Linked DNA regions of Homo sapiens: regions 1 and 3 are each linked to region 2. Evidence: fine-mapped expression QTL. A gene starts in region 2. Each other region holds a variant in brackets. All regions are shown on one strand. Distances are from middle to middle.

The links. PIP is the estimated chance that this variant, and not a neighbour inherited with it, causes the effect.
Region 1: its variant is the best candidate, but not a certain one, in a credible set for the expression of GGA1 in whole blood (TOPMed, PIP 0.77).
Region 3: its variant is the best candidate, but not a certain one, in a credible set for the expression of GGA1 in whole blood (INTERVAL, PIP 0.57).

The regions. Positions count from the first base shown.
Region 1 is chr22:37,763,229-37,771,404 of GRCh38, reverse strand. It overlaps TRIOBP (TRIO and F-actin binding protein), which reads right to left. Exons shown (of 24, transcript NM_001039141.3): 18 at 5,588-5,735; 19 at 3,229-3,331; 20 at 2,218-2,377; 21 at 2,030-2,143. Among named protein-coding and RNA genes, the nearest start is that of H1-0, 38 kb to the left of the region's middle. The variant G/A (reference allele first, on the strand shown) is at 4,920.
Region 2 is chr22:37,605,394-37,613,553 of GRCh38, reverse strand. It overlaps GGA1 (golgi associated, gamma adaptin ear containing, ARF binding protein 1), which reads right to left and starts at 4,720. Exons shown (of 17, transcript NM_013365.5): 1 at 4,651-4,720. The coding sequence starts at 4,693. RefSeq lists enhancers at 3,891-4,000, 3,715-4,336, 4,941-5,110, 5,261-5,340, a silencer at 4,331-4,780 and a cis regulatory region at 6,085-6,544.
Region 3 is chr22:37,581,368-37,589,543 of GRCh38, reverse strand. No RefSeq gene overlaps it. Among named protein-coding and RNA genes, the nearest start is that of LGALS2, 5.4 kb to the right of the region's middle. The variant G/A (reference allele first, on the strand shown) is at 3,688.

The sequences.
Region 1 (8,176 bases), 160 kb before region 2:
CAGCCCTCATGCAGCACCAGGCTCTCACCTCGGGAGTGAGATGGATGAAAAGAAGCCCTACATAAACCTGAGCAGGCTGAACCACTCCACAAGGCACCTCATTAACCCCTCCCCAACCCCGAGGGCTAGGTGCTGCTGACTTGACCAAGGAGGAAACAAGTTCAGCCAGGACTGGGGAGGCTTAAAAGCTCAGACTGGAGCCAGACTGCCTGGTTCAAATCCCAGTCCAGCTATAAAAGCTTTGGTAAGGTACTTGACCTTCCTGTGCCTCAGTTTCCTCATCTGTAAATGGGGACAGTCATAGTAGCTAATGTATGGAGCTGTCAGGAAGATTAGATGAGTTAACAGACAAAAAGGGCTTCCAGAATTTCTAGGTACAGAGTGAGCCTCACCTAAGTGTTTGTTGAAGAAATAAAATATTGGGGCCAGGAGCGGTGGCTCACGCCTGTAATCCCAGCACTTTGGGAGGCAGAGGCGGGCGGATCACGAGGTCAGGAGATTGGGACCATCCCGGCTAACATGGTGAAACCCCGTCTCTACTAAAAATACAAAAAATTAGCCAGGTGTGGTGGCGGGTGCCTGTAGTCCCAGCTACTCGGGAGGCTGAGGCAGGAGAATGGCATGAACCCGAGAGGCGGAGCTTGCAGTGAGCCGAGATGGTGCCACTGCACTCCAGCCTGGGTGACAGAGTGACTCCGTCTCAAAAAAAAAAAGAGAAATAAAATATCGGCTGGGCACGGTGGCTCACGCCTGTAATCCCAACACTTTGAGAGGCCGAAGTGGGCGGATCACCTGAGGTTGGGAGTTCGAGAAGAGCCTGACCAACATGGAAAAACCCTGTCTCTACTAAAAATACAAAATTATCCAGGCGAGGTGGCACATGCCTGTAATCCTAGCTACTTGGGAGGCTGAGGCAGGATAATCGCTTTTTTTTTTTAATATTTTTTTTTTTTTTGAGACGGAGTCTCGCTCTGTCACCCAGGCTGGAGTGCAGTGGCACGATCTCGGCTCACTGCACGCTCCGCCTCCCAGGTTCATGCCATTCTCCTGCCTCAGCCTCCGGAGTGGCTGGGACTACAGGCACCCGCCACCGCGCCCGCCACCACGCCCGGGTAATTTTTTTGTATTTTTAGTAGAGACGGGGTTTCACTGTGTTAGCCAGGATGGTCTTGATCTCCTACCTCGTGATCTGCCCGCCTCGGCCTCCCAAAGTGCTGGGATTACAGGCGTGAGCCACCGCGCCCGGCCAGGAGAATCGTTTTAACCTGGGAGGCGGAGGTTGTGGTGAGCCGAGATCGCGCCACTGCACTGTAGCCTGGGCAACAACAGCAAAACTCTGTCTCAAAAAAAAAAAAAAAGTAAAGAAATAAATACTAAGGCCGGGTGTGGTGGCTCATGCTGTAATCCCAGCACTTTGTGAGGCCAAGGTAGGCAGATCACTTGAGGTCCGGAGTTCGAGACCAGCCTGGCCAACATAGTGAAACTTGTCTCTACCAAAAATATAAAAAATTAGCTGGGTGTGGTGGTGCAGGCCTGTAATCCTAGCTACTTGGGAGGCTGAGGCAGGAGAATCGCTTGAACCAGGGAGGCAGAGGTTGCAGTGAACTGAGATCGTGTCACTACACTCCAGCCTGGGTGACAGAGAGAGACTCTGTCTCAAAAAAAGAAAGAAAGAAAAAGAAAGAAAATACTACAGTGATACTGGCATCACACACATACACACATATTTTCTTACCCCAATATTTCCCAGTAAGGAAGGTGCTGGTGCCATTTTACAGATGAGCTACTGGGACTCAGAAAAGTGGAGTGATTTGCTATGGTACACGGCAGGTAGGTGACACAATGCAGGTGGGAGGGCAGAATGCTGGCTACTGGATGCACAGTAGGTGTTCTAGCCTAGTCAGGCTGGCCCAGCCACTGGGAGACTTGGCTTTCCTGCCACAGGTGATACCCAGCCTATGGCGGGGGTGCCCCATAGCCCCGGGCCCCGAGAACCACTGGGCTGCCTGGTGCTAGTGAGGACACTCACCTCTAGCTCGCAGGAACTCCGCTCGTTGCTGCGCCCGCAGCCATTGCCCATGCCCTGCGAGGCAATGAAGCCGCGCAGCTGGTCTATCTCCTCTGACAGGCGGCCATGCAGCTCCTGGGAGAGGCACGGTGGTCAGGGGAGGGGTGCCGGGACCCACCCGTGTCCCCCCAACCTGGGGCCAGGCCCACCTGGTTGTGGCGCAGCAGCTCCTGGCCCTCCTGCTGGCAGCGGCGCAGCGTGTGCTCGCGCTCCTCAGCCTGCCGCATGAGTGCCCCAATCTCCAGGCACTTCTGCGAGTACTGCTCCGATAGCACCTGCAGCTCTCGCTTCAGTGCCTCCACATCTGACCTGCCCCAGAGGAGGAGCAGAGGAGAGCATAGGTTGTCTTGCTCCTGCCAAGCCTGGAGTCCAGTCAGGTAGACTTAAAGCATCCCAGGACTCTGGGGTTCCCTCTCTAGGTTTGCCTTTAGCCTGCTGTGGGGCTGTGAACCAGTGACAGCTTCTCTGGGCTACAGGTGTTTACCCTAAGTGAGGGTGGCTTGGAGGAGCCCATCTTTTTTTTTTTTTTTAGATGGAGTCTTGCTCTCACTCTTGTTGCCCAGGCTGGAATACAATGGCACAATCTTGGCTCACTGCAACCTCTGCCTCCTGGGTTCAAGCGATTCTCCTGCCTCAGCCTCCCAAGTAGCTAGAATTGCAGGCTCCCGCCACCACATTCAGCTAGCTTGTATTTTTAGTAGAGATGGGGTTTCACCATGTTGGCCAGGCTAGTCTCGAACTCCTGATCCCAGCCTCCCAAAGTGCTGGGATTACAGGCATGAGCCAATGTGCCCGGCTGGAGGGGCCCATCTTTAAAGTTAAAGCCCCTGAAACCTCAACATTCCAAAACTGTGCTCTGGGGCAGGGAGAGGCCTAGTGGTCAACAGTGACACTGCAGCCCAGCTCCAGGGGAGACTAAAGGGGTGAAGAGGTGGGTGGAGGCTGGGACCAGCCAAGACAAGAAGCTGCCTGAAGGACTGTCTGTGAGGACTGGCATGGGGTCTGCCTGAGGACCTTCTGCTTCTGTTTCTTGCATCCATGAGACTGGAGCAGGAATCTCAGCTAGGGGCAAACTGATGTGTCCGCTGCCAAGGGGCCTCAGCAAAGTTCCTCAACCCATAACCATCAGGGTGGGCAGTTGGGCCCCGGCATCATCTTACTGGTGCTGCTTCCGGAGGCCATCCGGGCCCTGCTGGAGACTCCGTGTTTTGCTCAGCTCTCGGCTCAGCTCTTCCTGGTAGGCCTTCTTCATGGCTTCAATGGCTGGAAGCAGGGCAGAGAGGCACAAGAGAGACTGGAGGGGGGTCAGCAGCACCAAGTGCCACCAGCTCTGAGACGCCACATGTACTGGTGGAGTACTATGTGGACTCCACATAGTACTATGCAAGTACTATGGACTTGGACCAAGGAGTGCTATGCAAAGAGCACCGAACCAGGAGTCTAGAGTAGCCCAGGTTGTGTCATAAACTGAGTGGCTTGGGGTAAGCTCTCAACCTCTCTCAGCCCATCTATTAAGGGAAGATAATCCTGTTGGATGGACCCTACTGGGGAGACAGCTCAGGGTCTGACCATTGGTACCTCCTGTTCTAGTGATTTCCAGGTAGGACCCCACCTAGTACACCCCCCCTGCAGACTCTGAGGGCTCTCAAACAAGGCCTATCTGCTTTGACCAGCCTCGTGGTCAAGAGCTCAGGCTCCACAGTCAGCATAAACCGATGTGACTTTGCACAGGTGACTTAACCCCTTGTGCCTCAGATCCCTTATCTGGAAAACAGGGATCGATAACAACAGTACCTTTCCTCCATGGGGTTATTGGAAGGTGTGTGAAGAATTTAGAACAAAGCATGGCTCAGAGTAAATGCCCCAACATTAGCTCCTGCTGGCTTTATTCTCAGATTGTGAGCTCCTAAGGACTGAGACCGAGGCTTTTTTTTTCCCACTCAGGGCCACCCATGGTTTTACCCACAATTCTAAAATCCGAAACTTCTGAACATTGAAAGTTTCTCTCCTTTTTTTCTTTCTTTTTTTTTTTGAGACAGAGTCTCACTCTGTCACCCAGGAGACGGAGTCTCACTCTGTCACCCAGGAGACGGAGTCTCACTCTGTCACCCAGGCTGGAGTGCAGTGGCACAATCTTGGTTCACTACAACCTTTGCCGCCCACTTTCAAGCGATTCTCCTGCCTCAGCCTCCTGAGTAGCTGGGATTACACGCGCCTGCCACCGCGCATGGCTAATTTTTGTATTCATAGTAGAGACAGGGTTTCACCATCTTGGCCAGGCTGGTCTTGAACTCCTGACCTCGTGATGCACCTGCCTCGGCCTCCCAAAGTGCTGGGATTACAGGCATGAGCCACAGTGCCTGGCCTTTTTTTTTTTTGATGGAGTCTTACTCTGTCATCCAGGCTGGAGTGCAGTGGTGCAATCTCAGCTCACTGCAGCCTCTGTCTCCTGGGTTCAAGAGATTCTCCTGCCTTAGCCTCCTGAGTAGCTGGGATTGCAGCTGCCCACCATCACGCCCAGCTAATTTTTGTATTTTTAGTAGAGATGGGGTTTCACCATGTTGGCCAGGCTAGTCTCGAACTCCTGACCTCAGGTGATCTGCCCGCCTCAGCCTCCCAAAGTGCTGGGATTACAGGCATGAGCCACTGCACCGGGCCTCTGGTAAATCTTTTGGTGGCAATCCCCACCCTGAACGGACATGAGGCTATTTATGGTCTTTATTATTCCACTTAAGTGTGATTTTTATCCATTTCACAGCAGAAACCTTAGTGCCAGATTACAGGGCGAAGTCCAGACTCTGCTGAGGGGGAAGGGGTCTCTAACACACGCGGCTGCAAAGGCGATCTTCCT[G/A]AAATGCAGAGCACACTGGCCCCAAGGCTGGGTTCGAGTGCATGAGCACTTGGCACAGCACTGGCAGGTTGTGAGCTTCAGATCATGTGACATTGGCCAGCATTTCTATTGTTCTGCAAACCCCTAGTGATGCCTAGGAATGTGCCAGGCACACAGCAGGTGTGCGGTGGCAGGAGGGGAGGGAATTGTCCAGGATGAAGGGTGCTCCTGTGGGAAACATGTGGGGCCCAGTGCCTGGCACACAGCTGGCATGGACAATGCTCACACCTTCCCCTGCTCTCCCCAGGGTCTGGCCCATGTGCCCAGGGAGGAGGCACTCCTATGAGGACAGGGGATGCAGCTGATCAGCCTCTCCCCCACGCACGTGGGTAGCATGTGCCTTTAGGCAGACTCTATGGTGGCTGCAGGCCCCTGAGCAGGAAGAGTCACCACCTATGGTAGTGGTGGTGTTGGGGGTGGGGAGGGTATCTTTTACTGCCTCAGTTTCCCTTTTTAAGTAGGGCTACAGGCCAGTTCTTGGAGCTTCTAACACCTGCTGACCCTTTACCCCAAATGTGGCACTGAGACCCCTACATCTTATTTGATAAAATCCTCCCCAGTTTGGCTAGGAGGAACCTCAGCACAGAGGCTCAGAGCCCAGCCCACTGTGCCCCCCCCAGGGTCCATACCTGAGGCCGTGGCTGCCGTCTCCTCAGCCAGGAGCCACTCCTTCTCCTGCTGCAGGCGCTGCAGCTCCCGCTCGTGGTGCCGCTGCAGCTCCTCCATCACCTGCTGGTGCGAGGACTCCATCTCTGCCAGGCTGCGCTCACATGCCTCCTGTGGGCCGGACGCCAGGGTGTCACAGGCTGCCCCGTTCCTCTGGACAGCGGCCCTTCCCCAGCCTCCAGAGGAGAAGGCTCAGGGGCAGGTACACCACCTCCTCCTGGGTCCCAGCACCTCCAGTCTGCACCTGCTCCTGCTCCCACCCCCACCCCACGGCTCCTCATTCACAAACCTCACCTTGTCGCTCCTGCCTCAAGCCCTCCAGGGATTCCTCGTCCTACAGAGTCAAGTCCCCGTTCCCATGGCTGACCTTTACGTTCTCATCCCTGGCCTTTCTCTGCCAAGCAATCTCACAGTTACGGTTGCAGCACGTTCACACCTCTGAGCTTTAGCTATTCCCACTGCCTGGAATTTTGTGGTTTTTTTGTTTTTGTTTTTGTTTTTGAGACAGAGTTTTGTTCTGTCACCCAGGCTGGAGTGCAGTGGAGCAATCTCAGCTCACTGCAACCTCCACCTCTGGGTTCAAGTGATTCTTCTGCCTCAGCCTCGTGAGTAGCTGGGACTACAGGTGCCCACCACCACGCCCAGCTAATTTTTGTATTTTTAGTAGAGATGGGGTTTCACTGTGTTAGCCAGGATGGTCTTGAACTTCTGACCTTGTGATCTGCCGGCCTTGGCCTCCCAAAATGCTGGGATTACAGGCATGAGCCACTGTGCCCGGCCTGGAATGTTTTTTTGGCAACTTTACCTCCCTGGGTAATTTACTGACCTGCAGCCCAGTTTAAATGTCTCTCCTAGCTCTGTCTCTGGGCAGCCTCTCCCCTGCCTCAAAAGGTTCTACCTCTGCCAAACCATAAATTCCCTGAAGACTGAGAACATCTGACTGGCGCAGTCCCCAGGGTCTAGGCCAGGGCCTGACATGTGGCAGGTGCTCAGTAAATGAGCTGAAACTGATGATGTAATACAAAATAATGCTTAGTAGACAAGATGGGCAAGTATCTCAGACTAATAATACCCACTGCTGGGAGTGTCCGCCACAACGGTGTGTGTTGGGGGTGGTCCGGTGGCATCATCACATTTTGCGACCCCACTGGTTGACCTAGTAGGTTCACTCCCAGAAATGATCCCACAGAAAGTCGTATGTGTACAGAGACTTTTGGAACAAGGGTATTCCCTACAGCCAGGTTGGTAACAGATGAAAACTGGAAACAATCTAAATCCCTATCAGGGGAACTCTTGAATAAATGATGGGATCGAGCTTGACAATGGGACACAGGCAGCTGCTAGACAGAGTTTTTGTGTGGATGCTGTGGAAAAAGATCCCAAAATGAGGTGGTGAAAGTTGGCTTCTGACATACACGTGGTATGATCTCACTCACGGGAACAAACGTGCAGACCTGTCCGTCCCAGTGAATGGAAAACACAGAAAACACAGAAAAGGTAGGGAGGATATTGTAGGGGGCAGAATGATAGCCCCTCAAAGTTGTCCACATCTTACTCCCAGGATCTGTGACTACATCATGTTACATGGCAAAGAGGAATTCAGGCTGCAGAGGGAATCAAGGTTGCTAATCAGCTGACCTTAAAATCGGGAGATTATCCCAGATTATCCCTCAAGCCCAGTGTAATCACAAGGGTCCTTAAAAGTGGACGAAGGGGGCAGAAGCGAAGAGTTCAAGGGAGGTGTGACCAGGAAGGGATGGTCAGAGTGACGTGGCAGGAGAAGGACTCGACTTCCCCTCTGCAGGCTTTGAAGATGAAGGAAGGGGCCGAGAGCCAAGGGACGCGGACGGCCACCAGAAGCTGGAGCAGGCAAGGGATACAACGGGTGCCTGCAGAGGAACACAGTCCTGCCCACGCCTTGGCTGCAGCGCGGCAAGACTCGCGTTAGACTTCTCGCCTACAGAAGCGTGAGGTAATACATGTGCATTATTTAGGTAGCTGTGGTTACAGGTTACAGCTGCCACCAGAAACTGATAGGCAGGCGGCAGCAGCCACCGACAGGACCCTGGGGTGGCAGCTGGCAGCAGAAGGAGTGTGAGGGTGTTGATTTCCAGCCTTTCAATTTGTTTAAATTATTTTTGAAAATGTAAACATTTCTTTTATATAATTAAAAAAATGTTTAAGGTCATTAAAAAGGGAAGGGGAAGAAGAGCCAGGGAAGAAACTAAGGCACAGAGGACCAGATGAGGGACTGTCTCCCCCACGCAAAGGCCACCTCCCCGCCTCTCCAGCAGCCACACCTGGGGACGATTTGATGGAGGAGCGAGGGCCAAGAGCTTCATGTGGCGACAGGGGTGTCTGTCCCCTGGCTTCTGTTCCTGCCCTCTATGTGTCTCCTGGCTTAGGACAACAGAACATGACTTTGGACCTCAGAGGCGGTCTTCACCCTGGCTGCGCCTTGGAGTGAACCTGAACAAACCCCTCGCCCCCTCTGAGCTTCAGTCTTGGCATCCGTAAAGCAGGCCTCACAGGACCAGCCCCCGAGGCTCCCT
Region 2 (8,160 bases):
TGGTGGGTGCCTGTAGTCCCAGCTACTTGGGAGGCTGAGGCAGGAGAATGGCGTGAACCCGGGAGGCGGAGCTTGGAGTGAGCCGAGGTCTCGCCACTGCCCTCCAGCCTGGGTGACAGAGCTGGGACTCTGGGTGACTCCGTCTCAAACAAACAAAAAAGAAACACAGAGGAGGGGACTCAGTTCAGTTTGGGGCTGAGGAGGCTGCCTGGAAGAGGCAACACACAAGCAGGGACCAGGAGGAGTCACCCAGGCTGGAGCTGGTACACCTCTGACCCACGCATGGCTGTATGGGCAGGAAAGATGCGGGTAACCACACGAGGCAGAGAATGAGGGGCCTCAGTAAGGAGTGTGAGTCTTACCATCACACCAGGTTCAGAAAGCCTTCATTCCCTTGGGAGTGGCTCCGGTGTCCCCTTCTCTAATCCTCTACTCCTGCCCAGGGTAGCAGTGCTGGGTCAGTTCTCTTTTGTGTCCCCCAGCCTGCTACGGCACTGCATCCCAGCCACTCATGTCCACACCTGTCTCCCCTTGGCAAATGAATGAGCAGTCAGCTGAGGGCAGGCAAAGGGTGAGGTTCTGGGGAAGACTGAATCCAGAAATGGATAGTGGCAAGGAAAGAGGGCCAACAGGTCTACATGAAGTGGTGTAAACACGACCAGACAGCTACCCCTTTAACCCCCAATACTGGTTAAACAACAATCTAGCTTACATGCTTCCCTGAACCTCCATTTCCCCATCTTGTAAAGCTGGAATGAAATATGGATTTTTTTTTTTTTTTGAGACGAGTCTCACGCTGTTGCCCAGGCTGGAGTGCAGTGGCACGATCTCGGCTCACTGCAAGCTCCGCCTCCCAGGTTCATGCCATTCTCCTTCCTCAGCCTCCCGAGTAGCTGGGACTACAGGCACCCGCCACCACGCCCGGCTAATTTTTTTTTGTATTTTTAGTAGAGACAGGGTTTCACCATGTTAGCCAGGATGGTCTCAATCTCCTGACCTTGTGATCCGCCCACCTTGGCCTCCCAAAGTGCTGGGATTACAGGTGTGAGCCACCGTGCCCGGCTGTATTTTTTTTTTTTTTTGAGACGGAGTCTCGCTCTATCGCCCAGGCTGGAGTGCAGTGGTGTGATCTCGGCTGACTGCAAACTCTGCCTCCCAGGTTCACGCCATTCTCCTGCCTCAGCCTCCCGAGTAGCTGGGACTACAGGTGCCCGCCACCACGCCCGGCTAATTTTTTTTTTTTTTGTATTTTTAGTAGAGACGGGGTTTCACTGTGTTAGCCAGGATGGTCTTGATCTCCTAACCTCGTGATCCACCTGCCTCGGCCTCCCAAAGTACTGGAATTACAGGTGTGAGCCACTGCGTCCGGCCTGTATTTTTTTATTTTTATTTTTTTTTGAGAAAGAGTCTTGCTTTGTTGCCCAGGCTGGAGTGCAGTGGCGAGATCTCGGCTCACTGCAATCTCAGCTTCCTGGGTTCAAACGATTCTCCTGCTTCAGCCTCCTGAGAGTAGCTGGGATCACAGGCGTCCACCACCATGCCCAGCTAATTTTTTTGTATTTTTGGTAGAGATGGAATTTCACCATGTTGGTCAGGCTGGTCTCAAACTCCTGACCTCAAATGATCCACCCACCTCGGCCACCCAAAGTGCTGGGATTACAGGCATGAGCCACTGTGCCTGACCAAAATATTGATTTTGGATGACAAAATACTTTTTGCATGGGAAGGCCATGGCGGCAGCCAGAGCTCGATCTTCATTTCTCCACAGCCCACCTCTAAGGACCACCCCTTCCCAGCCAGTTCTGCCCACGCCTGAGCACCGAGCTGAGGGTGTGGAAGGACACAGCCCAGGAGGTAGAACAGAGAAGGATCTGTGGACAGGAGGCTGGGGACTGACCCAGCATGTGGCGCCTGCCCTGGGCCATATGTTATGGCAGGGGGCCCAAAGCCCTGGAATCCCAGTGGCTGGCCGCCATTCATCCAACTCAGATTTAAGTATTCTGGGTGCTGGGGCTCCAGCAGTGAACAGACAAAATCCCTGCCCTCCTCAAGTTCACTGCCCAGCAAGAGAAACAATGAATACTCAGATTAACAAACCCCGTGTACTGCAGACTGTTGCAAAATGTTACAGAGCAAAGCATAGCAAGGAGAAGTGCAGACAGCCTGGGAGGTGGGGGCTGCTCTCTGGGAGGGCTTTCGGAGGGCTCTGGAGCCCTCGGGAGCTGCTCTCTGGGAGGGCTCTCAGAGCTGAGCTGAGATCGGAAGGACGAATGTTCTCTCTGGATCTAGATCTCTGTCCCAGGAGCTCCACAAGACCCTCTAGTCCCTCAGAAAAATGAAGCCCCTGTTGACCTCCTGGGGATACCAGGAATATGACCCTCCCCAACCCAGGGGTAAGGGTAACTGTCTACTCTGCCTCCGAGTCCCCAAACAAAGGCTGGGGAACATCAGTCTAAAGTTAGAGAATCACTGCCCATTCAATGACACCCAGCCAGAAGACCCTAAAACAGGAAGTCCCTTAAAGTGTCAAAGACACGTGAGTTGGAGTGAGGTCAGAGAAGCTGATTCTGGACTGCTCCTGGGTCAGACGCCAGTGAAGAGGAAGCGCTGGCATCATGAGACATCATCTTTCTCCCCCTGCCTCTGGCTGAAAGCCAGGGCCTCCAGATCCAAGGAGATCTGACTGACCTCCTTGGCCCATGGCCCCTGACCCTCAGCCCTCTTAATTCTACCTGAGGGGAGTACCCTCCCTAGCAGGCAGTTGGGGAGAACACCTAGAGAGGGAGGGAGGTGTTTCACAACAGGGTAAGACTCCACCCTGCCACTCTATAGTGCTGACAATAACATCATTTACCTCACTAGGCCGGGCGCGGTGGCTCACGCCTGTAATCCCAACACTTTGAGAGGCCGACGTGGGCGGATGAGTGGCTAACGCCTGTAATCCCAACACTTTGAGAGGCCTATATAGGCGGATCACCTGAGGTCAGGAGTTCGAGATCAGCCTGGCCAACATGGTGAAAGCCCACCTGTACTAAAAATACAAAAATAGCTGGGCGTGGTGGCGCACCTGTAATTCCAGCTACTCGGGAGGCTGAGACAGGAGAATCACTTGAACCCGGGAGGTGGAGGTTGCAGAGAGCTGAGATTGTGCCACTGCACTCCAGCCTGGGTGACAAGAGTGAAAACCCGTCTCAAAAAAAAAAAGAAGAAGCTATCCTTTACCTCCAGCCTCCACAAGGGAAGAGGAAAGATCTTACAATTCTGCTAGGACACAAAGGGGGAAGGAAAGGAGAAAATCCCAGCCCCAGTGTGTCAGGGCCCAGCCAAACCCAGGTATCTCTAACTTCTGCCTGGTTTTAGACTCTCTGGACTCTCAGAAAACCCCCACTGTTTCTAAACCTGAGAATGTTTTGTATGACCCACAGCTCAAGACCTGTGTCTGAGATCAGTTAGCCAGGGGCCCACCCATCCCCCCAGCCCAGTTGCTGCTGAGACCCAGGCGGACACTTCCGGCGTTCACAACGGTCAAGGGCTGCTGAGTGCCCCTTTTCCACCCCCTGCCCCTCTGGTGGCTAGGATGACTCTGAAACATCCCTAGAGGTTTGGTTCTGGGGCCAACCTCATGGTTCAACTCTGCTCAAGCCTGGCTTAAAAGGGGCCGGCCATGACCCCAAACCACGCTAGACAGTTGCCGGTGTGCCCGGGTCCAAGAGGGTTCCCTGAGGCCCTGGCAACGACGGGGTCCCAACAGCAGTTAAAGCCTTGGGAGAGAACCCTCACTAGACCAGGGAGAAGCCAGCCACGGCTTTCAGAGGCAGAGTCCAGGAGCGGGGCTGTGAGAGCAGGGGATCATCAGGGCTGTGGGTTAAGGAGCTCAGGTGGAGGGTTTGCGGGCTAGGAAGCCTAAGCAATAGGAAGCTACGTCTGAGGAGAAACAAGAAAAAAAGGGGTGTAGAAGCCTTTGAAGGAAGTTCAGCAAGAGCTGGGAAAGGCATCTTGGAGACTGAGGGGTTAGGCTGAAGGGAGTGACAGGGAGCTTGGAATTATTAATACTTCTGGAGTCTAAGACTCTCCCAAGCCTGTAGGGTGCGGGGGTTTCTCACTATGTGGCTAGAGACTAGGAGCGGCGGGAGGAATCAAATGGGGCAGTGGGTCCTCCCTTCCAGGACGGGGTAATGAGCAAATGTGACTACTTGCGGGCTCCAGGAACGCCATGCAGGGCCAGAGAGTGGAGGATTCGGGGCCTGAAAATAGTAGGGTCCCTCCCTCCCGGGTGTGAGATGCAACCCCGGGGAACCGCTCGCGTGCTCCTTCCCCGGGCCGCTACTCCGTGAAGCAATGTGAGCCTTGGGGGTTGGAGGCTGCTCTCTCCGTCCCGGGGGTTCCCGGCGCAGCTCACTCGCCGTCCCAGGGGTCATGGCCCAGGGATCCGACAGGTGGGCGGCGCCCGCTCCCACCGCTGGACCGCGCCGGGGCCGGGGTCCTCCATCGCTCCAGGGTCTGAGGGGCCGACTGAGGACACCGCCCCTCCCGGGCCGGGGGCGGGGCGTGAGGAGGGGGCGACCCGTACCCCGCCCCCGCCGGGAAGGGGCCCGCCTCGTGCCCCCGGTTCCGGTTCCGGTCCGGCCCGCGCCCCTCCCGGACACTCACTGATTCGCGCCTCCAGAGTCTCCGGCTCCATCGCGGGCTCCATCCGCCACCGGCCCCCAGCCTCGGCACCGCCCCCCCGCCCCCCGCAGCTCTCGCGGGACCTCCTGGGCACCGCCCTCTGCCGATTAAAGGGGCAACGTCCGAACGGGCGCGCTCGGCACCATAGAGAGGCCAACGAGCTCGCCTAGAGCGTCACCTACTCGCCCAACCCCACCCCCACGCGGCGTCTACGTCGCAGCTGGGACCGGCCGCCTGCTTTTCCGTTCCCGGCGCTCAGGCGGGAGAGGAAGTGGAGATACTGCAGGCTAAGGGCAGCACCATGGAAACCCCAAGGGACGCTCTAACTCGTTCTGCGTCACGGAGATGTCTGTGACCGCCTCCGGAAGAATTCTCTGCGGGCATGTTGCTGAGGGGCTCTGAGGCCACTTCCGGAGCCCTGAGCGGGTACTTCCGCTTAGAGTCGAACGTGGGAGAGTCCCTTAAAAGGGCGATAAGCTACATCCTCATGTACCTTGGCCGCTGTGAAAATGACGAAAATAAATCAGTTTCTTGAGTGCTTACAGTATTCTGGGCATTGTCCTAAGCACTATTTGTAATTAATCCATTTAGTTCTGACTCCTTACAACAAACCCACCAGATAATTAGTCGGCCTGAGGCCGCACAAGTAGCAGAGCTTGAACCCTGTGCCGTCTCCTCCATTCATCCAGCCAACGTTTAATGAACTCTTTGTATTTGCTTTGCTCTGTGATGGGCACAGAAGGAGATAGACAAGGCCAGATATTTATTACAGTGTGATAGGGGAAGCCCACGGGGTAGTGGGAACAAAGGAGGGGGCTCCTCCCCCAAACTGGGGTGGGGTGGGTGGGGGTGTTGTCAGGGGAGGGGTCGTGTCAGGGGAGGGGTCGTGTCAGGGGAGGTTTCAAGAGAAAGTGATACTGTACTTCGCTCAAAGACAGTCGGATTTCTCCACGTAGAGCTGGTGCGAAAAGATATTCAGGGAGAAAAAGTAGGATGAAGGCCGAGGAGGGCGGATCACGAGGTCAGGAGATCGAAACCATCCTAACACGGTGAAACCCCGTCTCTACTAAAAAAAAAAAAAAAAAAAAATTATCTGGGCGCGCCTTTAGTGCCAGCTACTTAGAAGGCTGAGGCAGAAGAATCGCTTGAACCCGGGAGGTGAAGGTTGCAGTGAGCCGAGATTGCGTCACTGCACTCCAGCCTGGGCGGCATAGCGAGACTCAGTCTCAAAAAAAAAAAAAAAAAAAAAAGTAGGATGAGTCCAGGGAGTTGGAAGTATTTCAATACGGCTCCCAGATATCTGCAAATAGATATCTATTTGCAGGAGATATCTTGGAATTAGGCTGGGGCAAGATCACCCAGGTCCCATGTTTTGCTGCCCTTTTTTTTTTTTTTCCCTGTAAGCAACGTTGGAGGTGTCGTTACAGTTTTACGGATGGTAGCAAAGTCAGGCTTTTGTTTTAGAAGGGTCCAGCAGTGGGAGGAAGATAGCAGTGGGAGCCAGACTGGAATCGGGGAGGACAGTACGAACAGACTTCCTAAGCTCGGCGCCTTTTCTCCTGTATCTCCCTCCATCAAAGACCTCCCTCACCTTGTGGCGTCACGACCTGGCGGCGCCTGGTCCCCGACTCACCTGGGTCCATTGCACTCTGTCGCCCCCTCGCGGCCGGCTGGGAAACCGGCCCGTGGCGACCTCTCCAGCGGTCCTGTGCCTGGGAGGGTTAAAGCTCCACTGAGACTAGGGAATCTGGCGAATCCGGTTCTGCCTTGGCGACTGACCTCGATTCACCTTGCGGAACCGCAGTAACCTCATCCAGGAGATGAGGGGGCTGTGCTGGGTCAGTTTTTCCCCTAAACTCAACCATTCAGCGACTGGGATGCTTTTCTAAATTCTCTCCCAAAGGCCATTGAGATTATACAGGGAAGTGATATGTATGTTTATTGCATTCCTCAACAAAAGCTGTAACGTAGTGTATACTTATAGCTTTTTGTTTATGTCTTTTACTACTGAAATGAATTATATATATTTTTTTATTTTATTTTATTTTTGAGACGGAGTCTCTCTCTGTCGCCCAGGCCGGAGTGCAGTGACGCGATCTCAGCTCACCACAACCTCTGCCTCCCGGGTTCAAGTGATTTTCCTCCCTCACCCTCCCGAGTAGCTGGGATTACCGGCGCCTGCCACCACGCCCGGCTAATTTTTTCATATTTTTAGTAGAGACGGGGTTTCACCATGTTGGCCAGGCTGGTCTCGAACTCTGGACCTCAAGTAATCCACCCGCCTGAGCCTCCCAAAGTGCTGGGATTACAGGTATGAACCACTGCGCCCAGCCTATTATATTTATTTTTGAGACAGAGTTTTACTCTGTCGCCCAGGCTAGAGTGCAGTGGCACGATCTCAGCTCACTGCAACCTCTGCTTCCTGGGTTCAAGCGATTCCCCTGCCTCAGCCTCCTGAGTTGCTGGGATTACAGGCATGCGCCATCATGCCTGGCTAATTTTTGTATTTTTAGTAGAGACAGGGTTTCGCCATGTTGGCCAGGCGGGTCTCGAACCCCTGACCTCAGGTGATCCACCTGCCTTGACCACCCAAAGTGTTTGGATTACAGGCGTGAGCCACCACGCCCAGCCTGAGATGAATTATTACTGAAATAAAACTCACATCGCATTTACTGCATTCATTTAGGGACATGTCTGTGCTGTCAGGAGTCACTTTTAAAGACAAAATAGATTTGATTTAGGTGCAAATTCTGACTTCACTGCTTTCTGGATGATCTTGAACAAGTGTGTCTGCAAAATTAATCCCCTACCACATGTTCCCTACCACCTTTTCTGCTGAACTTTTCTCCTTAGCACTTATCTCCACTACATATTTCATTTCTTTGTTGTGTTTTGTGTCTCTCTCCCCCACCAGAATGTAAGCTCCACCACGGCAATGGATTTTATTTAGTTACTTCACTAATAATATATCCCCAAGCCCTAAAACAGTAACTGTTACACAATAAGTATTCAATAAATATGCATCAAATAAATGAATGAATATGCCCAACATTGCACAGTGAGTATGGGGGTTTGGAGAGGCGAGCCAGGCTGTGCTTGTAACAAAGGCTCTAGGCTGTCCCTCTGAGTTCTGGGGAGCAGGGCGTGATAAGGTAGACTCAGGAGCTGTGTCTATGCGTGAAGGGCCTGGCCCAAACTGGGGATCAGGGTAGGAGGTACGGTAGGAGGAACCTAAAGATGGTGAAAGGAAGGAGGACCAACACGGGAAACTTGGAGGAAATGCCTGTGGCAGCCGTTCCCACCCATTCCCCACCATGAGCAAATGTGTTGCTTTGAGAGACTTGAGGAACCCCTGAGAAGGGCAGGTAAAGCTCAGCTATAATCACCTAAGCCATGCCGACCTCTAAGGATTTAACACCTCAGCTCCTTCCTAAGAAAACCCCTGGAACACTGGAAACGTTGGTGAGGGAGGGCTGGGGCGAGGGAATAGGA
Region 3 (8,176 bases), 24 kb after region 2:
CCAGTAAGAGGCAGCGAGGACTTGAGGCCAATGCCATTCCATGAAGGTGCCGGAGCAGGCAGCAGCTCTGGACACCCAGCCACAGTCTCATCTGCTCTCCTGCAGCCCATGGTCTCCCCAGGGGCTCTGGGAATTAGGGGAGAATTCATGACCGCTCTGGTTGGTGGGTCTCGGGGGTTGTGAACTTGACCTGCAAGGGTATTACGGCACCTAGGTCCTGCTCCCATCCTAAAAATAAAGGGTCAGCTTCTGAAATGGACATTTCCCTGAAGGCCTGTACCTGTTGATTTTGGCCTTCAGGAAAATGTCCATTTAAACCAAGCTGCTTCTGGAATCCTTTGGATTCTGATTCTGGGAGATGAGGCCCTGGGGGCTCATAGGTGTTTCCCCTTGAGGAAGGAGGCTTGTATATGTACGGGGTGCTGCGGGGAGGCAGCCCAGATGGTCCTGAGACTGCAATCATCAGAAAAGCAGTGATGGCAGCAGAATCTGTGTGGCCCAGGGCAGAGCTGGGGCCAACTGTGAGAGGAAGGGGATTGCCCCCAGGGACAGACTTCAGTAAGAGTGGGGGTTTCCAGTGGCCATAGGTGCTCAGGGTGGATCAGAAGCCTTGGGAGTGGGTGTGCTCCTGCGACTAGGGCTGCACTTGGCGGGGGACCTCCTTTGGTTGTTTACCACATTAGAGATGGATAAATGCTCCTCTCCCTGCTTGGCAAACACAAAGATTGAGGCGGATATAGTCCTGTCCTTGGCAGATATAATCCTGCCAGAAGCTGGGGGTGGGGTGGGAATGCTGGGGTGAGCAGCGTTGCTTCATTGCTTCTGTTGTTTTAGCCTCTCCTCACCATCCCCAGGTACCCGCCCGCATGGACAGCTGTGACTGGGTGATTAAGATGCAGAAGGCTCAGGTCAGGCGCTGTGGCTCACGCCTGTAATCCCAGCACCTTGGGAAGCCAAGGCAGGCAGATCACCTGCGGTCAGGAGTTCAGGAAAAGCCTGGCCAACATGGTGAAACCTCGTCTCTACTACAAATACAAAAATTAGTCGGGCGTGATGGCGGGTGCCTATAATCCCAGCTACTTGGGAGGCTGAAGCAGGAGAATCACTTGAACCTGGAAGGTGGAGGTCACAGTGAGCCGAGATTGCACCACTGCAGTCCAGCCTGGGCAACAGAGCGAGACTCTGTCTCAAAAAAAAAAAAAGGCTCCACTATCCATGGAAAGACTGTGTGGCCTGGGCCAGGGAGAAGGAACTGCACTCAGGACTCAGGTCACCTGTCTCTGAGGAAGAGCACTCAAGGACCACCCAAGTCACAGAAGCAGCTTGGTTTATATCTTCAATTTCTAAAGACACAGAGATGGAAAATCTTCTTGCCACTTATAAGAAGGTGGACACAGAACCTGATGATCTTTTCTGTAAATCCACCCAGCACCACACGTGCATAAGTTGGCGTGGCCCTGAGACGGAGGCTTCCTGGTTCAAAAGGCTGGGATGATAAGCCAGGGAGGGGGCAGGAGGGATGGAGGGAGGGGCCGTGCTGCACCAGATTGGGGCCCTGAAGATACCCACCCTTTGGGGCTCTATGATGAGCAATTCCTCCTGCTGATCCACCATCCATGCACCCACCCCTCCCTCCACCTCCTCACCCATCCACCCACTTAACCATGCATCTTTTTTCTTTTTTCTTTTTCTTTTCTTTTTTTTGAGATGCAGTCTCACTCTATTGCCCAGGCTGGAGTGCAATGGCCCGATCTCGGCTCACTGCAGCCTCTGCCTCCCAGGTTCAAGTGATTCTCCTGCCTCAGCCTCCCGAGTAGCTGGGATTACAGGTGCGCACCACCACGCCCAGCTAATTTTTGTATTTTTAGTAGAGACGGGGTTTCTCTGTGTTGGCCAGGCTGGTCTCGAGCTCCTGACCTCAGGTAAGCCACCCACCTCAACCTCCCAAAGTGCTGGGATTACAGGTGTGGGCCACCACGCCAGGCCTCTTTTTTCTCCTTTTTTGAGGCAGAGTTTCACTCTGTCACCCAGGCTGGAGTACAGTGGCACAATCTCGGCTCACTGCAACCTCCTGGATTCAAGCAATTCTCCTTTCTCAGCTTCCAGAGTAGCTGGGCTTACAGGTGTGTGCCACCACGCTTGGCTAATTTTTGTATTTTTAGTAGAGACAGGATTTCACCATGTTGGCCAGGCTGGTCTCGAACTCCTGAGCTCCCTCTCCCTGACTCCCCTCTCCCTCCACACCAGTTGCAAGTCTGAGCCTCTGGACTTCAAGTTGGGGATCCCACGACCCCTCTTTGGGTTCAGTTAATTTGTTAGAGTGGCTCACAGAAGTCAGGGAAACATTTGTGTGTACTGGTCTATTATAAAGGATGTTATAAAACATACAGATGAAGAGATGTTTAGGGCGGGTTATGGGGAAGAGATGCAGAGCTTCCCCTCCCACCTGGGAGCACCATCCTTCAGGACAGCCATGTGTTCAGCTATCTCAGAAGCTGCCCAAACCCAATCCCCTGGGGCCTTTTATGGGGACTTTATTATGCCGGCATGATTGACCTCTGTGTAGAACTGTGAATGGGCAAAAAGGATCTGATCTAATATTACTAGACGAAGTGTGGAACCCCCGCAAGGCCCGTCTGTTCAGATTCTTCTTGGCCTCTCTGTGCAGCATTTCTTACTCCAAGGGATGGAGCAGGACCCCTTCTGAAATGAGGGTCTTATGACAAGGTAGGTCAGGGAATTTCTTTTTTTTTTTTTTTTTTTTTTTTGAGATGGAGTTTTGCTCTTGTTGCCCAGGCTGGAGTGCAATGGTGCGATCTCGGCTCACTGCAATCTCTGCCTCCTGGGTTCCAGAAATTCTCCTGCCTCAGCTTCCCGAGCAGCTGGGATTACAAGCATGCACCACTACGCCTGGCTAATTTTATATTTTTAGTAGAGATGGGGTTTCTCCTTGTTGGTCAGGCTGGTTTCGAACTCCCAACCTCAGGTGATCCGCCTGCCTCGGCCTCCCAAAGTGCTGGGATTACAGGCGTGAGCCAACGCGCCCTGCCAGGGAATTTCTTTACGGAAGAATTTCTGTGTTTTTTTTTTTTTTTTGAGATGGAGTCTCATTCTTGTCACCCAGGCTGGAGTGCAATGGCGTGATCTTGGCTCGCTGCAGCCTCCCAGGTTCAAGCGATTCTCCTGCCTCAGCCTCCTGAGTAGCTGGGATTACAGGTGCGCATCACCGCGCCCTGCTAATTATTTTGTATTTTTAGTAAAGACAGGGTTTCGCCATGTTGGCCAGGCTGGTCTCGAACTCCTGACCTCAAGTGATTCGCCCGCCTCAACCTCCCAAAGTGCTGGGACTACAGGTGTGAGCCACTGTGCCTGGCCAGAATTTCTGTTCTAAGAAAGAAAGGCAGGGGGAGATTCCTACCTTGAGGAGAGAAAGGAGCAGGTGAAGGAAGGACAGCCAAAGGTCAGAGATTGATTCTGTTTTCTGAGGCCTGTTCCTGAGGCCTAAAGCACCCCAACATTATAACAAAAGACTAACAAATGCTGTGAGAGTTATGAGTTAGAAACCATGGGCAAAACCTATTTTATGTAATAATAGTATCACAGCACCCATCCATCCATCCGATTGTCCATCCATCCCTCTTTTGAGTTAAAACTGACATGATAAGGAGCTCAATCCAGCCAAGAGCT[G/A]AGGAAGAATTCCAGGTGGAAGGAACAGCAAGGACATAAGGCATGAGACTAGAATGAGCCTGGTGAATTCAAGGGATAGAGATGTCAGTGTGGCCAGGGGGCAGGTGGCGTGAGACGGGGCTAAGAGGTGGACCAGACCCGATCGTGTGGGGCTGGTTAGCTGAGAGGGGAGTTTGGATTTCGCTGTAAGTGCAAGGAGAAACCTGGAGGGTTTAAAGCAGGAGAGTGGAATGTTGTCATTTACATCTTACAAAGAACCAGTGGTTGGTGGAAAGACTGTGGGGGCAGGAGTGGAGAAAGGGAGAAAGCTCGGTGGCTTTGGCCCACTCCCTGCTAAGTCTCCAAATTCCTTCCTCCTTCAAGGCCCCACCCTGATTTCAGGTGAGATGGGATGACCCCAGAGCTCCAGGGGACCTGGGTGGTCCTGGAGGGACACTAGCTGGGGATGGGTGGCCAGGCATGGCCAGTGGCTGCTGTGTAGAGAGGGGCCCCGGACCCGGCCATCAAGTTAAACAGGAAGATCCCTGGGCTGGATGAGGCGAGAGCTCTGTGGAAGTCCCCTGAAGGAGGGACGGTCAGCTCATCAGAGCTGCAGGAGCAGGGGACCCCCCCTCAGGCAGCCTAAACATCCTGGAGACCTGATGGTCATATATATAATTTATTTATTTATTTTGGGTCGGAGTCTTGCTCTGTCGCCCAGGCTGGAATGCAATGGCATCATCTCGGCTCACTGCAACCTCCGCCTCCCAGTTTCAAGCAATTCTCCTGCCTCAGCCTCCTGAGTAGCTGGGATTACAGGTGTCAGCCATCGCACCCAGCCCATAGGTTAACTTTTTAAATTAAAATTAAGGCTGGGCACAGTGGCTCACACCTGTAATCCCAGCCCTGTGGGAGGCCGAGGCGGGTAGATCACGAGGTCAGGAGATCGAGACCATCCTGGCTAACACGGTGAAACCCCGTCTCTACTAAAAATACAAAAAAATTAGTCGGGCATGGTGGCGGGCACCTGTAGTCCCAGCCACTTGGGAGGCTGAGGCAGGAGAATGGCGTGAACCCGGGAGGAGGAGCTTGCAGTGAGCCAAGATCGCGCCACTGCACTCCAGCCTGGGTGACAGAGCAAGACTCTGTCTCAAAAATAAAATAAAATAAAATAAAATAAAATAAAATAAAATAAAATTTAAAAAAATTCTCACAACCACCCTGGGACGAAGGTGCTGTTAGCTCCCTTTCACAGATGCAGAAACGAGGCTTGAAGCAACCTGTCATGGCCACTTAGCTTGTAGGTGACAGAGCCGGGACTGGACATTATCTATCTGTTGCTGAAACCTCTGTGTTTCCCACACCCCACCAGTAACTGAGGGTCTTCCCAGTCCCTCTGTGTGCTGCTGGGGAGGGCTCGGCAGAGAGGGAAGCAAGAGTTAAAATGGATATTGCCGGGGTGTTGATCTGTTTGTTCTTTGGGAGGAGGACAGCAGAGGACACAGTAGGGGTCTCAGGGATGTCAGGACCAAAGTCTCCCAATAGCAGGAGCCCCGTGGGAAGCTGTGTGCACCACCAGGCTCAGCAGGCATGATGCCTCAGGCCCATGACACCAAAATGTTTTAATTTCTTTTCTTTCTTTCTTTTTTTTTTGAGATGGACTCTTGCTCTGTTGCACAGGCTGGAGTGCAGTGGCACTATCTCAGCTCACTGCAACCTCCGTCTCCTGGGTTCAAGCGATTCTTCTGTCTTAGCCTCCCGTGTACCTTGGACTCCAGGCGCACGCCACCACACCAGGCTAATTTTTGTATTTTTAGTAGAGATGGGGTTTCACCATATTGGTTGGGCTGGTCTTGAACTCCTGACCTCAGGTGATCCACCTGCCTCGGCCTCCCAAAGTGCTAGGATTACAGGCGTGAGCCACTGCGCCCAGCCTAAAATGTTTTAATTTCTTATACAATCAGAAAAAAATAAACTTTTAGGTTGAAGAGAAAATATATACATATTTTTTGAGACCAAGGTCTTACTCTGTCACCCAGACTGTAGTGCAGTGGTGTGACCATGGCCGACTGCAGCCTTGACCTCCTGGGTTCAAGCGAACCTCCCACCTCAGCCTCTCCCGTAGCTGGGACTACATTTGTGCTCCACCGTGCCAAGCTAATTTAAAAATATCTTTTGTAGCCAGGCGTGGTGTCTCACACCCGTAATCCCAGCACTTTGGGAGGCTGAGGCAGGCGGATCACCTGAGGTCAGGAGTTTGAGACCAGCCTGGCCAACATGGTGAAATGCCGCCTCTACTAAAAATACAAAAATTAGCTGGGCATGGTCGTGGGCGCCTGTAATCCCAGGTACTTGGGAGGCTGAGGCAGGAGAATCACTTGAACCTAGGAGGTGGAGATTGCAGTGAACAGAGATTGTGCCATTACACTCCAGCCTGGGCGACAAGAGCAAGACTCCATCTCAAGAAAAAAAAAAATTCAGTATAGTATTATAGAATGTCTGTGGACATCTATGGACCAAAGATTCTTTAGCCAGGAGGGAGGCCTTCAGGAATATTATTCCGTCTACCAGCCTTCCAATAACAATTGCTTGGCAAGGTATATTAGTTATCTATCACTGCGTAATAAATTAACCCAAAATGTAGGGACTTAAAATAAGAAACACGTTTCTCATGGTTTCTTTGGGGCAGGAATCCAGGTGGGGTTTAGCTGAGAGCCTCTGGCTCCGGGTCTCACAAGGCTGCAGTCAGGGTGTCGGCTGCACAAGTTGTCTCCAGGCTGGCGTGGGGTAAGCTCCAATGTCAAGTTCACTCATGTAGCTGTTGGCAGGTCCTGGTCTTCATTGGTGGTTGGCTGGAGACGTCAGTTCCTTGGCACATGGGCCTCTCCATAGAGCTACTCGCAAGGTGGTTTCATTGCTTCTTCCCCAGGGCAAGAGCAGAGCAGAGGGCGAGAGAGACAGCAGGACAACAGTTTTTTTGTAACCTAACCTTGGAAGTGACATCCCATGACTTTTGCCATATTCTAGTATTCTTTTAGTTAGAAGCAAGTCCTGTGTCCAGTCATGCTCAAGGGAGCTGATTGGGCAAGTGTGTGATTACCAGGAGCTGGGGATCATTGGGGCCATCTCAGAGGCGGCCACCGCACAGAGGGCTCAAGGTCACACTGGAGGTCAAATGCTCTTTTTGCTAAGTGAGGGCAGTGCCACACACTTTGGCAGGCGCCTGAGCAAGGGATTGGTTGCTAGACAGCAAGCTCTGCTACTTTCTAGTTGCGTGAGTCCTGGGATCCCTAATTCCCCACCTGAAAAATGGGGTGAGAACAGAGGTTCCCTTGAGAATGTACTATGAGCTTATAACGATGAGGGCTGAAGAAAGTGGTTTGCAAAGTGCAGAATGCCCTTCAGAAGGTAGCCATTGTTAAGAGGACAAGGTTACAGATGTGAGTATTGGAATTTCTGTTCTTTTTCTTTTTCCTTTGAGACAGGGTCCGTCACTGTCACCCAGGCTGGAGTGCAGTGGCACAATCATGGCTCACTGCAGCCTGGATCTCCAGGGCTCAAGTGATTCTCTTACCTCAGACTCCTGAGTAGCTGGGACTACTGGCATGTGCCACCATGCCTGGCTAATTAAAAAAAATTTTTAGTAGAGATAGGGTCTCACTATGTGGCCCAGGCTGGTCTCGAACTCCTGGACTCAAGCGATCCACCCACCTCAGCTTCCCAAAGTGCTGGGATTACAGGGGTGAGCCACCATGCCCAGCCATTCTTTTTTCTTTTTTTAAATCTTTCATTGGTATAAAATATATACGCAGCAAAGTACGTAAATGATATGCATGGTCATTTTCCCCTGCTTTTGAACATTATTTTAAAACAAGTGAACTTTAAGTTCCTTTTACTGTGTGTACTTTCTGGAACCTCCTATAGTGAGATAATATTATTATTATAATCAGAAAAATGCCACCTTTAAAAGGTATAGTTTCTGTTGATTAGTTTCCAGGGAGAAAGCCTTTTAAAATTCCTTATCTCACTGGGGTTTTACCATGCCTTTGGGAGAAAGGCCGAGAGAGGATTAATTTCCTTGTGGGTGAAAGGAGGAAGTCACTCCTCACTCCGGGCTGGCAGGGGACTGAAGGTGGTGTCCTATGTGGGCACTGGGCAGTGAGCCACCTGCAGACTCCTGGCACCGAGGGCCCTCGGCAAGGCCAGTTCCCCACATCCTGCCCGGAGTGGCCACCGCCAACTCTGATGGAAAACGCTCTGGCTCGCCAAATCCTGAGCTCTAGAAAAGTTCTCCTTCTGGGAATCTGCCCTACATAAGTTGTCACGATGCAGCCAAAGTTTATGTCCAAATAGATTTAATGCAGCAGTATTTTTAATAGCAAAAATGTAGAATTAATGTGAGTGTTCAGCAGAAGGAAATTGGTTAAATAAATTCAGTCGTTGAAAGGTAGACTATTTCGCAGGCATTAAAGTATGGTTCTGAAATATAGATTTGTGGTCTTTAATGTTT